Homo sapiens: one gene and its partners. The protein of the gene in region 1 purifies or fractionates together with the protein of each later gene. This does not show direct contact. Each region holds a gene or a part of one and is shown on either strand. Other genes may lie near its edges.

Region 1 (3,884 bases):
CTTTTCTTTCTTGCCAGGTATAAGCCCAATGTAAGAATCATCATGCTCCTACATTATTTGTAAGGTTGTCATTTTCCTCCTCCTTTGTCTGGGCATCAGAAAACAATGCACGTAGGTCGGGCACGGTGGCTCACGCCTGTAATCCCAGGCATGTAATCTCATGCCTGGGATTACAGGCGTGAGCCACAGTGCCCAGCCCCCTCCCTCCTTTGGGAGGCTGAGGCAGGCGGATCACCTGAGGTCAGGAGTTCGAGACCAGCCTGGCTTGCATGGTGAAACCCTGTCTCTACCAAAAAAAAAAAAAGAAACACACACACAACGCATGAAACGTCGTCAAAGTTAGAGTTGAGGCAGTTGCTTTTCAAGGATGTACAGAGAGCTGTGAAGCAAGAAACAGATTTGAACAGGAGGGTGGGCTGGAGAACAGAGCAGCTAAAGAATGATTAACAGAGTAAAGAAGAAAGTGAAAATATAAAACCACCTTATCAGAGTTATGCCTTTCTAAACATCTAAACAAACAAACATTCACATATTCTATTCTAAAAACACATAATAATACATATTCTATTTTATGGTCTGAATTTACCAGAAAGGTCCTAAGAAAAGTTTCAGGAGTTCGTAGAGTCCTCGTAATGGCAACAAAAATTTTGAGAGAAACTGCAAAGCACAAATCCACAGAAATAACAGCATACTTTCAGTTAAGCATTTTCACCTTAGAGGGGGCATTCCAAAATGTAATTTCCTTTATTTGTACCAGTTTTTAGAGCTGTCAGAATTTCATGATTCTAGTTCACCAACACATTCACGTGTGTACATGCGCGTGCACACACACCACCAAGGTGCAAGACAGATGTGAATGAAGTAGACAGTCTAGAAGTCAGGTGAATATTAATGAGAAATATGACATAGGGACAGCCCTCCCATTTCTACTTCCACCTTCATTGACCATTATACTGCCCCCTGGACATTCTTACCATTAGCTGACAGGTATGCAAGCAGAGTGCTGAAGATGTCTCATGTGAATAAAATGTAACTCACTCACTCAGTTAAAACTAGGATTCTGTATCTTAACTCTTATCTAGGGAACTTACTTACTTACCCCATGATCTGTATATAGTTGCCTCTCAGGATAAATGCATATATAGAAGATGGTCATGCTCAGGGCTAAATATGTTCTGGAAGCCTTTTATAAGTTCTCAGGCCTGTGTCCTGGTAAACATTACCTTAGTGATTATTTGGTCTGCATTCATTGGAAGAGCTTAGGGATAGAAAATGCCTCCTGCCCTCTCCAGCTGTTTGCTGCCTGTACCATCGCACAGAACTCACACCAGTACTTTAGAGTATGAAAGATAATACTGAAGAGAAAAGTGACTTGTATCTAACATTTCAATCTCCTTGCAGATTTCATACATACTTAATGATTAGTACATTCAGACTAAAGGGAAATTTCTTTTGATGGCACGTACTATGGTAAATCAAAGCGCAAACTCAGAAGTGCTATGGTATTGAGGCACTTACCAACCTTCAAAAGTAAGAGTAAAATGGGATATTCCTACCCTTTTTTTTAGTATTTCTAAGTGAATCTCTGTAATATTCTTTGTCTGTTTAAAGAAAACAGCCTCCCATCTCATAGTGGCTTCATGCTAAGCTCTCAGCAAGGAGAGAGAATGATGGTTTTGGCTTTAGTTTTATGAACAAGACCTAAAGCTTAATCCTGACATTCTGGTGTTAAGAATGAACACAGCATTGATATTTCACTTATCCAGGCTGTTAGAATTTGCAGTTCACATCATTACTCTGTGCTTAAATTTAAAAAGCTTTTCAAAACATCGTGACATGTGTAGCATTTAAATTCCATTTTATTCTTTGTCCTAAAGCAGGCAGTGGTATAGTTCAGGATTAATAACTTATTGGGAGTCTCTCAGTCATATAGAATATTAAATTTAATATAGTCACATGCATTAAGAAAAACTTACGCAAACAGTTTTTCACTGTTAATTTTGTTGTGCTTGAAGCATAATTTATTCATCCCTTCTGTCACTGATAATTAATTATTGGAATTATATACTTTAGGAGGCTAATCCATGCCCAGGAAGCACGAACATACTGTTCAGAATGTGCAAGTTGATGTAGGGAAAGGAAGATTCAGAAATGTACAAAATCCTGTGATTTGTTTAGTAAGAAAAGAGTTGTAACCAAAATTTCTTCTGGTCCGGATGTAATTAGTCCAGTCACAAATCTTTGTGTTGTTAATGGATTATTCAAGATATATATATATATTCTTACTACTGCATAGTTCCTCTCATAAGTCCTTAAATTTATTAAAAGGGGGAGGTAAACACAAGCAGTCTGTGTCTCACTGGTCACTAAGGGGCCTTTATGAGACAGTTTAGGTTGTTCATCATTTCACAAGGAAAGAAATTTTTCACTGTTAAATTAACATTTATTACCAACATGTGAAACCTAAAATTAATTTTGCATTCCATGTAATCTAAGGCCAAAGCCAACATATTCTTTCTCTTCTGGGAAAATAAAATTGACAGGTTTTGTTTAAACTTCAGAAACTGAAGCTTTATTTCAGCCTGTCCTGCCATGAGGTCTCCAGTGAGAGGTCTCCAGTGAAAGGTCTCATGTAATTGTTTCTCTTTTATCTCCCAAATTTAATGTGGGCAATAAAATTCTCCTTTCGTAATTCACTGTTTTATTACAAATACGATATTACTGAAACATCTTATTAGCAGATAAGTATAGACCAGGAGCCTAACTGTGTTAGATATTTTCAGTGCACATTTCACAGTTGTTTTTCATTTTAGGATTATTTTGAGAAGAAAAAATGTTTTGTAATTGAAATAGTTTTAATTTCCTTTAAACCATAATTTGGTTTTTCTATCTATATTATATTCAGTTCAGTTTTCCCATATAACTTTTGTGAAGATTGGCTAGTACCACAAAATAACTATGGCTTCACAATACTAGTGTTAGATTATGTCAAGAAGAAAGTGTTTTAGTTACAACATACGCCACCCACTGAGGACCTTGTAGTGGGATAAACAAAAATTAAAATGCAACAATCCAAATAAATTATAATGTAACAATACAAATATCTGAATCATAAGTCACAGTTTTTCAGGGTTCTTTCAGTCACACCACTTTATAATTAATTCTGGTGAGTCATCAGATGTAGGAATGTACCTGAAAACCTTACTTAGTATACTGTGTACACTGTTTAATGGCCATGCATCTTTTGAAGTTTGATATTTTCTGAAAAAGCATTGTTTGCCTCAGCCCTCTTCTTTTTACGTATACTCCATTTATCATTGATATTTTAGATGTTTCTTATCAACAAAATTGGCTGCCCTGGTTAGTGCTGAGTCATCGCAAGACTTGCTTTTGCATTTAGGAAGCCACACCCTCCCACAAAACAGAACAGTGCAAAATAAGCAGCAGAGAGACAGACAGTTGGAAAAGACATGTTTTCTTTAGGTATTAATATCTTAATTAAATGGAATCAGATTTTGTATGGAAATGAGTTTATATTACATTTCCATTATACTAAGTCAGTGTGAAAGTTTACCATCAAAATAGCGTTACTTCTTTTATGACTAACTCTGATTTGCTTATACATATCAGAATGATATTCATTAAATATTTTAATTTCATTTATTTTTCTATGTTTTGATTAGTTTCACATCAAGTCTGAATACTATATTTTGGAAGAATCCAAAACCACATATGAAGATACTGATTTTAAAAGTCAGGATTTCATGTACCAAGAATGACCTACTTGAAGGAGATTTTGCTACACTCTTAGAGTCCCAAAAATTCCCCTTTAAAAAAAATGCTGTCCTACAGAAGGTGTATAAACTATACCTTAGCCATAATTC
Region 2 (3,884 bases), on another chromosome or scaffold:
AAGATCAAGGTCAGCTTCTGGCTGGATTGCAGCTTAGTTGCTTGTCTTTTGTTCTATTTCTTTACTCCTCCAATCTTTCCCACCCTGCCCCATGCTAGCCCATAGCACTGGGCCAGGGCTCGGTTCACTGGTGTTTTCCTTCCAAAGGGGCATGAAGCCCTGCTCTGTTGGCTGCAGGGGTTCAAAGGTAAGATATTGGCTTGGTCAGGGATTTGGACAAAGCCTGGTTTTAATGATCCTGCTCTCACCATCTCGGGAGAGAGACATGAATAGGGCCTGTGGGAGCTGGTGCTGCCTTTCCCCTAGCACCCTCCACCCGCTTCAAACAACCCGCCTTCAGATCCAGGCCCCCCTGTTTCTTGTGAAATTGTGCCAGTTTGTCAGCAGGGCAGTACCAATCTGTGCCAGGTGGGTGTCTCCTCCCCCATTGCCTCAGTGGGACATCAGGCTGAGATGGCCTTGGGGCTGGACTTTGGGGAGATTTTAAAGCCCTTTTGGGTTGGGGTGTATTTACCACCTGTCAGAGTGGGTGAGGACCAAAGGGGTGATCGTGTCCAACTCTGTTACGCTACAGTGGGGAAACAGACTGGGGAGTGCCCAAGGTCCCTCAGCCTCGGCAGACAAGGACCCATCTTCTGACTCCCAGCTCCCAGGCCATGCCTTTCCCTCTGTGGTTGGTTCTGTCCTTCGTGGCCCCCCTCAGTGCAGGGTTCATGGACTGGGCTCCAAGAGGGAGAGGGGAGGGCAGGGAGCTGCAGGGATGAGTGGACAATGTATCCTGTTCATCTCTGTGTCCCCAGTGGCCAGCACAGAGCCTGGCACAGAGCAGTTCTCCATAAATGTTTGTGAAGTACAAACCAGGGAACAGCCCCGCCTGTGGCCCCCCAGGGCGCCCCATGCCCAGCTCTACCCCTGACACTGTGATGTTCCATCTCATATCCGTCTACCCTACCAGGTAGGAGTTATTTGAGGCCGAGAAAAATGATAATAGCAACTTCTTCCATAGTGCTTACCACTATGTTGGTATATTACCATCACCCCACTTGACAGATTAAGAAACTGACACAGGCCGGGTACAGTGGCTCACACCTGTAATCCCAGCACTTTGGGAGGCCAAGGTAGGAGGATCACTTGGACTCAGGAGTTTGAGACCAGCCTGGGTGACACAAGGAGACCCAATACCTACAGAAAAATTTTAAAAATTAGCTGGGGCCAGGAGCAGTGGCTGACACCTGTAATCCCAGCACTTTGGGAGGCCAAGGCGGGTGGATCACCTGAGGTCAGGAGTTTGAGACCAGCCTGGCCAACATGGTGAAACACTGTCCCTACTAAAATTACAAAATTAGCTGGGTGAAGTGACACACACCTGTAGTCCCAGCTACTTGGGAGCCTGAGGCAGGAGAATCGCTTGAACCTGGGAGAGGGAGATTGCAATGAGCCAAGATCACGCCATTGCATTCTAGTCTGAGTGACAAGAGCAAAATGTAGTCTTAAAAAAAAAAAAAATTAGCTGGGCATGTAGTCCCAGCTACTCGGGTGGTGGAAGTGGGAAAATCACTTGAGCTGGGGGGTTCGAGTCTGCAGTGAGCTGTGATTGCACCACTGCACTCCAGCCTGGGCAACATAATGAGACCCTGTCTCAAAAAACCAAACCAAACGAAACAAAAAAGCTCTGCCTGCCTTCAGCCTGCTGAGGTCCAAATTTTAGATGTACTCCTTGTTCACTGTGTGCCCTTGGACAAGTTACTTCATTGTTTTAGCCTCGGCTTTCTTTTATTCTTTTGAGGCAGGGTCTTGTTCTGTTGCTCAGGCTGAAGTGCAGTGGTGTGAGCTTGGTACACTGCAGCCTTGAACTCCTGGGATCAAGTGAGCCTCCCTCCTCAGCCTCCTGAGTAGTTGAGACTACAGGTGCATGCCACCATGCCCAGCTAATTTTTCCATTTTGTATTTTTTATAGAGACAGGGTTTTGCCATGTTGCCCAGGCTGGTCTCAAAATTCCTGGACTCAAGTGATCCTCCCACTTTGGCCTCCCAAAGTGCGGGGATTACAGGTGTGAGCCACCACACCTGGCTGGTTTTCTTATCCCTGAAATAATCCCTCAAAATTACAGAGAGGGCTAAATGAGGTAGTATTGGTAAAGTGGCTGAGATTTAGTAATCTCAATTATTGGTAGCAACTATTATTAAAAAAAATCAATGGATAGAAATGAGAACAATGCACTTTTGCCTCAGTAAAAAGTACTGACCTTTATGGTCAGAGCAATCTAAAGAGAAAGTGACCTGCCTCTGGAGGTAATGAGGCCCCCATCACTGGAGGTGCAGTGAGGTCTGGGCAAGCACAGGCTGGAGAATGATGTGCACTAGAGAGAATTCAGCAAAGGCTTGGCACAGGAAACTTTAAGGGCCCTGCCTTGGGATCAGCACTATATGATAGGAAATTAGAGGAGCAGGTGAATCCTACTTCCTACTGTGGGGCATTGAGGAGAGCAGGCAGAGATGTCCCCAGCCTCTGGGAACATCAGGGGTTGGCTGCTATGGTTTGGACTGTGAGGCTCCCCAGAGGATAGGTAGTCCTGAGAGGCTGCCTGGAGGAGGCCTGCAAGGGTGGGTATGGTTCTGATAGGTGGGAAAATGTGGGATTGTATTCTAGGCCCAGGAAGGGCTTGGTGGCCGAGGGACAGAGAGGAGCCTGGGCCACTGGTCCTGAGGTTGGCCCCGGGGTTGCGTCATCATCCTCGTGCCTCAGTCTCCTGGGCTGCTGGGATTACAGGTGTGCCACTACACCTGGCTAATTTTTTTTATTTTTTTAGAGACAAGGTTTCGGCATGTTGGCTGGCATGTTGGCCAGGCTGGTCTCGAACTCCTGACCTCAGGTGATCCACTTGCCTTGGCCTCCCGAAGTGCTGGGATTACAAGCGTGAGCCACCGCGCCTGGCTGGATTTTGTCATCATCCTGGGTGCCCAAGGGGTTTGGGTGTATGGTGGTGGCAGTGGGGAAACTAGTAATTCCCTGTCCCGCCAACCCCCCAGCTTCTCCTGGAGGAGGAGCCAGGGCTACTCCCGGTGGCAAGGAGCCCGGGCCCGTAAGGAGCGGAACTGGGGAAAGAAAGACTTCTTATGCCCAGTGCATTTGGGGGCGTCCGGGGGTCGGGGAACAGTGGGGCCTTTGTCCCCAACCGCTGGGAATCTGGCCGAGGAGCTGGCCCTGGGTCTGGCTAGGCCCTCGGAAGGCAGGTCCTCTTTGAAGTGACCCTTTCAAAGCTCGGCCTGAATCCCTGGGAGGAGAGACAGCATGGGGCGGGGCGTGGGGATGACTGAGACCCAAGGGCCGAGGCCTGAGGGATAGAAACAGACCCGGCCTTGGCCTCTTGGGGTGTGGAGGTTGGTCGGAGGTGTGTGGGCCGGAGGAATGTGGTGGGCTGGGAGACCGCGTGGGAGCCATGTGGGAGGACAACCACGCAAGGGGCCTTAGCCCCAAGTGGGGGTGCACCTAGGCAGGGGCCGAGTTCATTCTGGCCCGAGAGTGTTTCTGTCTCCTATCTGACTTCTGTCTGGCTCTGTGCTCCTGTATCAACAGCTGCTTCTTCCTTTTTAATTTCCCCAAAAGTGTGAGAGCTTGGAAAGAATCGGGTGTGGACGCCAGACTCAGAGCTCTTGGGAGGAGGGAGAGGTGGGGACCTGGGCAATCCAGAGCTTTTCCTGCTTCTGAGAGCCCCCGAAGGCTGGAAGGAGAGGCTGGAGGGGACACCCCCACCTCCCGCATAGAGTCTCCCTTATGCTCAAGGTGGAGGAACTCTGTATTGTTCCTGAAAAGGGACAGAAGGAGGAGGAAAGCTACCCAGAGAGGGGACATCTTCCTTTGCTTCAGCTGGAGGAATATCAGA
Region 3 (3,500 bases), on another chromosome or scaffold:
GTCTCAATGGTCCCTCGGGCTTCAACCTGTTCCCCCCTTTCCTGGGCCCTGGAGATCCCATGACTGGCAATTCTGACATCCTGATTCCTGGAGAGGCCTTCACCCTTGTGCTTGCGCCAGCTGGAGGGTGGTGCAGAGGGAGGTGGATGAAAAGAGCTGACTGGACAGAGAACCGGCACCCACAAGAGTCAGCCAAAAGGACAGCTGAGGTTGACATTGGCACGAGCAGATGTCTAAGCTATAGACTGTCAGGTCTGGGGACGGGGGATGACTTTGGGACCTCTCAGTCCAGTCCTTCAAAGGCGGCTCGGTTCACAGGGGGCTGAAGGGCAGGGGAGTGTCACTGCAGAGTCAAATATATCCGAGACCAGGGTCTGCTCTGCCAGATACTGGCTGTGCAACCTGAATGTCTCTAAGGTGCAGCTCCCTCATCTGCAAAATGGGGGTAATAACAGCACCTGCCTCATGGGGCTACAGTATGGAGCCCCACTAAGCGCCTGGCATGCAGTAGGCACTAAGAAGCATGAGTTTTTTTGTTTCTTTGTGGGTTTTTTTGAGGTGGAGTTTTGCTCTTGTCGCCTAGGCTGGAGTGCAATGGCGCGATCTTGGCTCACCGTAACCTCCGCCTCCCGGGTTCAAACAATTCTCCTGCCTCAGCCTCCCAAATAGCTGAGATTACAGGTGCCTGACACCCCGCCGGCTAATTTTTTTGTATTTTTAGTAGAGACAGGGTTTCACCATGTTGGCCAGGCTGGTCTCAAACTCCTGACCTCAGGTGATCCGCCCGCCTCAGCCTCCAAAGTGCTGGGATTACAGGCGTGAGCCACCGCGCCCGGCCCATGAGTCCTTTTCCTTGCCACCTCCTTCCCCACTCTTCTTCAACCCTAGCCATATGGAGCCTGGAGAAGGGGAAGTGAGATGCTGCCCTGCCCCACAGCGGAAGGGAGGGGAGAAGTTACAGCTCTGTTTCCTGGGATCCACTCTGTGGGCATTGGACACATAGGCATGTGGGAGACCCCATGCCTCAGTTTTCTGGGGCTGAATGGCCGTGGCTGAGTTGGGGCAGGGACTTCCTATTGGTTCAAAACCAACACAGGACGTATCTAGGAGTTGATCCAGTCTCTTGGCAGCTCAGATGCATAAATTCTGTGACCCAGGCGACTTGAGGAAAAGTATTTTCCACCTTTCTGGGCTGCCATATGCTCTTAGTTACCTGAAGCCCCTGGGCTAAGGAGCGGTGGAGCCAGCACTTTGGAAGGAGCTTTGGCTTTCCCAGGGGCCGGACAGGTACCCCTGGGACAGAGGGCGCCCCCTCATATCTTGACCCTCCTTTGACCTCCAACTCATTGCAGGGACTTCTTGCCTCGAGGATCTGGCATTGTCACCCGACGTCCCCTGGTCTTGCAGCTGGTCAATGCAACCACAGGTACGTGCCCTCCTTCACCAGCAGCCAGGCCTGCCCACTCCAGCCTCTCCCCCGTCCCCAAGCTGAGGGCCAGCCTGGCCACGAACTTGCTTGCTGTGTGACTGTGGGCCTCGTTCCCCTTAGGGATAGCGGGGATCAAAATACATAATGGAGACGTGGGTGGTGGTTCTGCTTGGGTGTGTCTAGGGGGTTCTATTACCGGTGGGAGATGAAAACCCCCAGGTGGGGTTCCAGACCTTGATGCCTACTGCCCTTCCCCTGCCCGCTTCTGGAGCAGAATATGCCGAGTTCCTGCACTGCAAGGGAAAGAAATTCACCGACTTCGAGGAGGTGCGCCTTGAGATCGAGGCCGAGACCGACAGGGTCACCGGCACCAACAAGGGCATCTCGCCGGTGCCTATCAACCTCCGCGTCTACTCGCCGCACGGTGAGGACCCTGGCCCCGCCCTAACCTCTAAGAATCATTTTCTTGGCCACGCACCTCTGCGTGCCTCGCTCCTCCTGCAGACTCCGCCCCTAGAATGACCCTGCCTCTGCATCATCCTATTCCAAGCTCCACCCTGCCGTGATTCCGCCCACTTCCGGCCACGCCTCCAACAGACTGCCACTTTCGCCCTGAGATTTCCTAGTCCCACCCACCTGCCACCCTGCTCCCAAGCAGCTTCTCTAACCCCGCCCTATTCTTTAACCTCGCCCGCGGCCACGCCCCTCGCCTTGAGCCCGCCCTCTCGCCGCCCTGTCCAGTGCTGAACCTGACCCTGGTGGACCTGCCCGGAATGACCAAGGTCCCGGTGGGGGACCAACCTCCCGACATCGAGTTCCAGATCCGAGACATGCTTATGCAGTTTGTCACCAAGGAGAACTGCCTCATCCTGGCCGTGTCCCCCGCCAACTCTGACCTGGCCAATTCTGACGCCCTCAAGGTCGCCAAGGAGGTGGACCCCCAGGGTAGGTTCCCACCCGGTGGCCAATGCACAAAACCCCAGGCTTGCAGGCTGTCTATTCTTAGTGTAAAGGGGAGCCTCTGAACGGTCTAAGAATAGCGGTGGGATCAGATTTGTACCTTTAAAAATCACTTTGGGGGTCAGGCATGGTAGCTCATGCCTGTAATCCCAGCACTTTGGGAGGCCAAGCCGGGAGGATTGCTTGAGCCCAGGAGTTCGAGACAAGGCTGGGCAACCTAGTGAGACCCCATTTCTACAAAAAATTTAAAAATTAGCCGGGCACCGTGGTGCACGCTTGTGGTCCCAGCTACTCGTGAGGCTGAGGCCAGAGAATCACTTGAGCCCAGGAGGTTGAGGCTGCAGTGAGCCCTACTCGCACCACTGCAGTCCAGCATGGGCAAGAGTGAGACCCTGTCTCAAAAAAGAAAAAAAGGCTGGGTGCAGTGGCTCATGCCTGTAATCCCAGCACTTTGGGAGGCCAACTTGGGAGGATCGCTTGAAGCCAGGAGTTGGAAACCAGCCTGGCAACAAAGCGAGATCCCATCTCTAACAAATAAAAAAACAAGAAGAATAAATAAAAATCATTTTGGCTACTCTGTGGAAAATGAATAAGGGGGAAAGAGAGGAGGCAGTGAGCAGGCAGGGGGCCGAGGAGAGCAGGGGGATGGGAGTGGGAGTGCATGGAATTGTGTGTGAGAGCGGGTGCAGCTGTAGACGGCCCTCCTGCTGGTGCACCCAGGCCAGCGCACCATCGGGGTCATCACCAAGCTGGACCTGATGGACGAGGGCACAGATGCCCGTGATGTGCTGGAGAACAAGCTGCTCCCCCTGCGCAGAGGTAAGCAGGCCATGCCCCTCAACCACTCCCCAGCCCTTCCCCACCCTTCCCCTCCTCTTGAGGCTGGTTGCCCTGACCTTGATACTGTTCACAGGCTACATTGGAGTGGTGAACCGGAGCCAGAAGGACATTGATGGCAAGAAGGACATTACCGCCGCCTTGGCTGCTGAACGAAAGTTCTTCCTCTCCCATCCATCTTATCGCCACTTGGCTGACCGTATGGGCACGCCCTACCTGCAGAAGGTCCTCAATCAGGTAGGCGACCAAGCCAGGATGGGGCCTGGGGAAACAA
Region 4 (3,884 bases), on another chromosome or scaffold:
ATTGTTTTAAACTAAAAATTCAAGCTTTGTAATACAGAAGATTCATAATTAGGCACATGCTAGAATTATTTAAATATTCATTTTCATAATATACAGATTTTTAATTTTAGTTTCATAATTACTATTTTATATTTCAAAAAATTGTAACGTTTTAAATTTCTGTACATTTTTCTGCTGGTAACTTGAAAAAATTTTAGATTTGTTTTTCAGTGTTTGTATTAGCCTAAATATGTTTGATGAATTGCAGATTATAGTATAAAACTCACTAATGAGTATGTAACCATTATTTTATGTTCTTGATGTATATTTTAAGAAAATCAAGTGAAATAAACACACATTAGGCCATATGTTGGATATGTGGAATTGATTAATGTTTTCATTTCCAAGAAAATGCCATTATAATTTCCTATGATTTTTAGCATTAGTGATATTTTTTATCATAGAGATTTCTTTCTTTATATCTTACAACACATACATTTATACATTCTTAATCTGGCTTTAATAAATAGTTGAGAACAGTTTGTATGAATCCCAAATACAGAGCATTTTAACAGTGTTATATGTTTAAATATAGAAAAGCCTAATACAGTGATGTTTTAAATTTTATGTGTTGTCAACACAGTATTTCTTCTTAAATAACTTATGAAAAGTGTCTGTGTGTACTTTGGTAAGAAATGTATTTTCAATGTTTCATCAAGAAAGCAGTGATTTATCTTTTAACAGCATATATTCTAAAAAATGAACTATAATGGAAGCTATCTTTCCTTAAAATGGCCAGTCGTGTGAGCTATAATATAGTTCATTGATAGTAAAATCAATAGAGCATTGATTCTAAGCTTAATCCTTAGAGACTGTTGTTTAGAGTGACAGACATAGGCTAGTAAATATCTAGTTCTGTTTAATGTGTTCAGTGCATGAGATTTTGCTATCTTGAATTTGTACACCAAATACAATTTGTACGTAGGGTAGAAAATAGTAGCTATTAACAGACACATAGCACTTTCAGTTATGATGGTGATAAAATATTTGATAAGAGATTCTTAGCTATGAGTTCAGCTGTTTTCTCTTCTGCTATAGTTTAGTTATACCCAAAGCAAATTTAATACTTAAGAGTGCTATTAGGGAATTGTCTCCATTTTCTTAGATGTTCTTTATCAATAACTATACTTTTTACCTGAAGTTATTTCATGGGAGAGGTTTGCTGAAAATGATGATTTCTATATTCACCTTTTTTCTCCCTCAACAAATCTGAAGTAGAATGTGGATTGAGAATAGATTCAGGACTTAAGGTTGATTGGACTTCATTTGAATGTTGTAATCTTATGTTAGAGCACTTGAAACCTTTTTACCTATACATTTTCTCATTTAAAATGAATCAGTATTTATAAGATAGATTTAAACATAAATTTTTGATAACATGAATGATAGTTTTTATGAAGTCATATTATTATATCTTGATGTTAATATTCAAGAATTTCGATAAACATTGAAAAAGAATAGCACCAAATTTTTCTGGTGTAGCTACTGCCAAACCATACATTACTTTGTAGACTCTTGTATATTACACAATTTGCTTTTTAAGAGTTTAGTACTAATTAATGTCCTTTGCTTTCAACATTGGTTATTCCAATTTGATGATATTGTTATTAATAACCTAAGTTGATCAGAAGGTCAGGTTTTCTAGATTTGCTAATAAAATATATTTTACATTTATATCTGATGTTTTTCTACTGAAAAAAGAAGTTGCCTGTAATAAATCCTCTGCTTTATTTTTTTAGCATATCTCCAAGGTATCAATTTAATAACTATCAAAGTAGCTACTGCAGTTGTTGCATTTAAATTGATTTACATGTCAAGACTGGCAGTTTAGCAGCTGCGCTATTATTCCTAGATCGGTCAATTTACTTGAGAAAAACCTACTACCGAGTTCTACTGACCTGCCTGACAATATAGGCCCTATTTCTATTCCTGTAATTAGGCCTGCGACTAACTCAGAATATTTTTAATTAAAATATTTTGGTCAATGTGTTGCACCAAATTAGGCCTTTCAGTGAAGATTTAATTCTGGAAATAGTGTGATTAGAATATTTAATGAGTTGTGTTCAATTAACAGGTTGTGTGTGTTGAACACACAGTGTTTGTATGTGACCATTTTGAGTTTTACAGTCATAAATGTTACTCCTTATTTTTAACCTCAAAGATATTTGTTCAATGATTGTCTGACAAGTAAATTTAAATTGAGTTGAAAATTTATTTTAAAGTAACTTTTTTATCCTGATAGTACCAAGAAAGCTGATTTAAAATGCATCAGCTTTTTAAAGGACTAGGAAAGCTTTTACTTGTTAATGTTCTTCTCTTCCAGCAAAAGCCAAAAATGAGGAAATTGCCACTTAATTGTTTACAAATAAACAGTTTTATTGAGAAATCCAACATAAACACTGGTTGTTACCACATCTCTTTTTAATTTGGGAGTTTTTTATTTTCTAAAGGAATATAGCAATACAAAATTAAAAGACACTCAATTTTATAGGCTTTTACCTCATTAAAAAGCTTTGATAAAATCATGTGTATAAATACTTCAGCCTTGAGCCACCGTAGTTTAGGGGTAGACATAAAAGCACTGACTAGAAAATTTATTCTGAATTTGATTCAATTAATATGTAATTCACGGTAACAAACAGCTCTTATCTTGATCTTTCTCCTATTGAGATCCTCCTTTTTGTTGCTGACTTCAATGGTAGAGTCTTTACTATAGACTAGTAGACAGGTAGACTACACGTAGCTCCTTTAGTTTAGATGTCACTCCAGGAGTCACATCTTTGGGTGCTGTAAAAACATGAGATCTGGTATCCACAGTATATTACTGGACACTTTTTTGAAGGGTGTCAGTGACTAGAGCTATCTACAGTGCTTTGAATTTACTCGATATTATAATGCTGGGAACGTACATAAACATTATCTATTTTGGATAATTTGTTTTCTTTTTCCTTTTTGTAATATAGGCACAAATAGTTTTTTTTGTTTTTATTTTAAACTCCCCGTGAAAAACTGTTATATTTGTACTGTAGGTATGATGATATTCTGATCAATGGACTTCCAGATTGGCGACAGCCTGTATTCTACTACAGGCGGGTGAGAAAAATGAGCAATGCTGAGCTGGCATTACTCTTGTTCATTATTCTCACAGTGGGTCATTATGCTGTGGTTTGGTCAATCTACCTGGAAAAACAACTGGTAAGTGTTAGTAATAAATCAAATGAACTAGCCTCCTTAATTTTATATGGAATTTTGGACATTTATTTTTCAACTGATGAAAATTTCTGTTTCTCTCTGTATACTTCTCATTCTAATAGTTTTATACTCAATGTTTGACATATTTCTAAGTCAAGAAGAACCCATGAAATAAGAAAATATTCTTCTTTTAAAAAATGTGGCACTTAAGTTTGTTATAAAACTTTGTGAAAGCCCAAATATCTAGCTGGGAATTAGAAGGTAGAGCCATGTTTTCATTATCACCTTCCAAATAGAAATATTTTTTATTTAAGACTGATTTTAGATTTTTTTGTGTCACAGGCCTTTATATAATGAATGTTTACTTTTAAAATGTTTTAGGTAAATAAATAAAATTGGAAATGAATATAATATTCTAACTTCAATTGGTTAAAAAAATTATTACACTTTTCTTGGTTTAATATGCTACTCTATAGTTTATTCTTTGGGTTTTTATTTATATGTTAAAGATAATCAAACATATTTATCAGTATTCATGAATTAGCATCTGTTTACTCATTCCTTTTGAAGTGACATTATTAAAGTTGGATGAATGAGAAAAAGTGAGTTGAATGCTTTCTCTTCTTAGAAAACTTTGATTGCTATGGAGATGC

The links.
Region 2: the proteins of FER (region 1) and ARHGAP23 purify together in Homo sapiens (affinity purification with mass spectrometry, with the first as the bait; one large-scale study listed by BioGRID). This does not show direct contact.
Region 3: the proteins of FER (region 1) and DNM1 fractionate together in Homo sapiens (co-fractionation; one study listed by BioGRID). This does not show direct contact.
Region 4: the proteins of FER (region 1) and DNAJC1 fractionate together in Homo sapiens (co-fractionation; one large-scale study listed by BioGRID). This does not show direct contact.

The regions. Positions count from the first base shown.
Region 1 is NC_000005.10:109,188,097-109,191,980, forward strand, and holds part of FER (tyrosine-protein kinase Fer), read left to right. Parts: 3' UTR 1-3,884. UniProt on the Homo sapiens protein: Tyrosine-protein kinase that acts downstream of cell surface receptors for growth factors and plays a role in the regulation of the actin cytoskeleton, microtubule assembly, lamellipodia formation, cell adhesion, cell migration and chemotaxis.
Region 2 is NC_000017.11:38,431,188-38,435,071, forward strand, and holds part of ARHGAP23 (rho GTPase-activating protein 23), read left to right. Parts: intron 1-3,884.
Region 3 is NC_000009.12:128,216,879-128,220,378, forward strand, and holds part of DNM1 (dynamin-1), read left to right. Parts: intron 1-1,352; coding exon 1,353-1,426; intron 1,427-1,703; coding exon 1,704-1,853; intron 1,854-2,170; coding exon 2,171-2,374; intron 2,375-3,109; coding exon 3,110-3,208; intron 3,209-3,302; coding exon 3,303-3,463; intron 3,464-3,500. UniProt on the Homo sapiens protein: Catalyzes the hydrolysis of GTP and utilizes this energy to mediate vesicle scission and participates in many forms of endocytosis, such as clathrin-mediated endocytosis or synaptic vesicle endocytosis as well as rapid endocytosis (RE).
Region 4 is NC_000010.11:21,920,148-21,924,031, reverse strand, and holds part of DNAJC1 (dnaJ homolog subfamily C member 1 precursor), read left to right. Parts: intron 1-3,068; coding exon 3,069-3,234; intron 3,235-3,884. UniProt on the Homo sapiens protein: May modulate protein synthesis.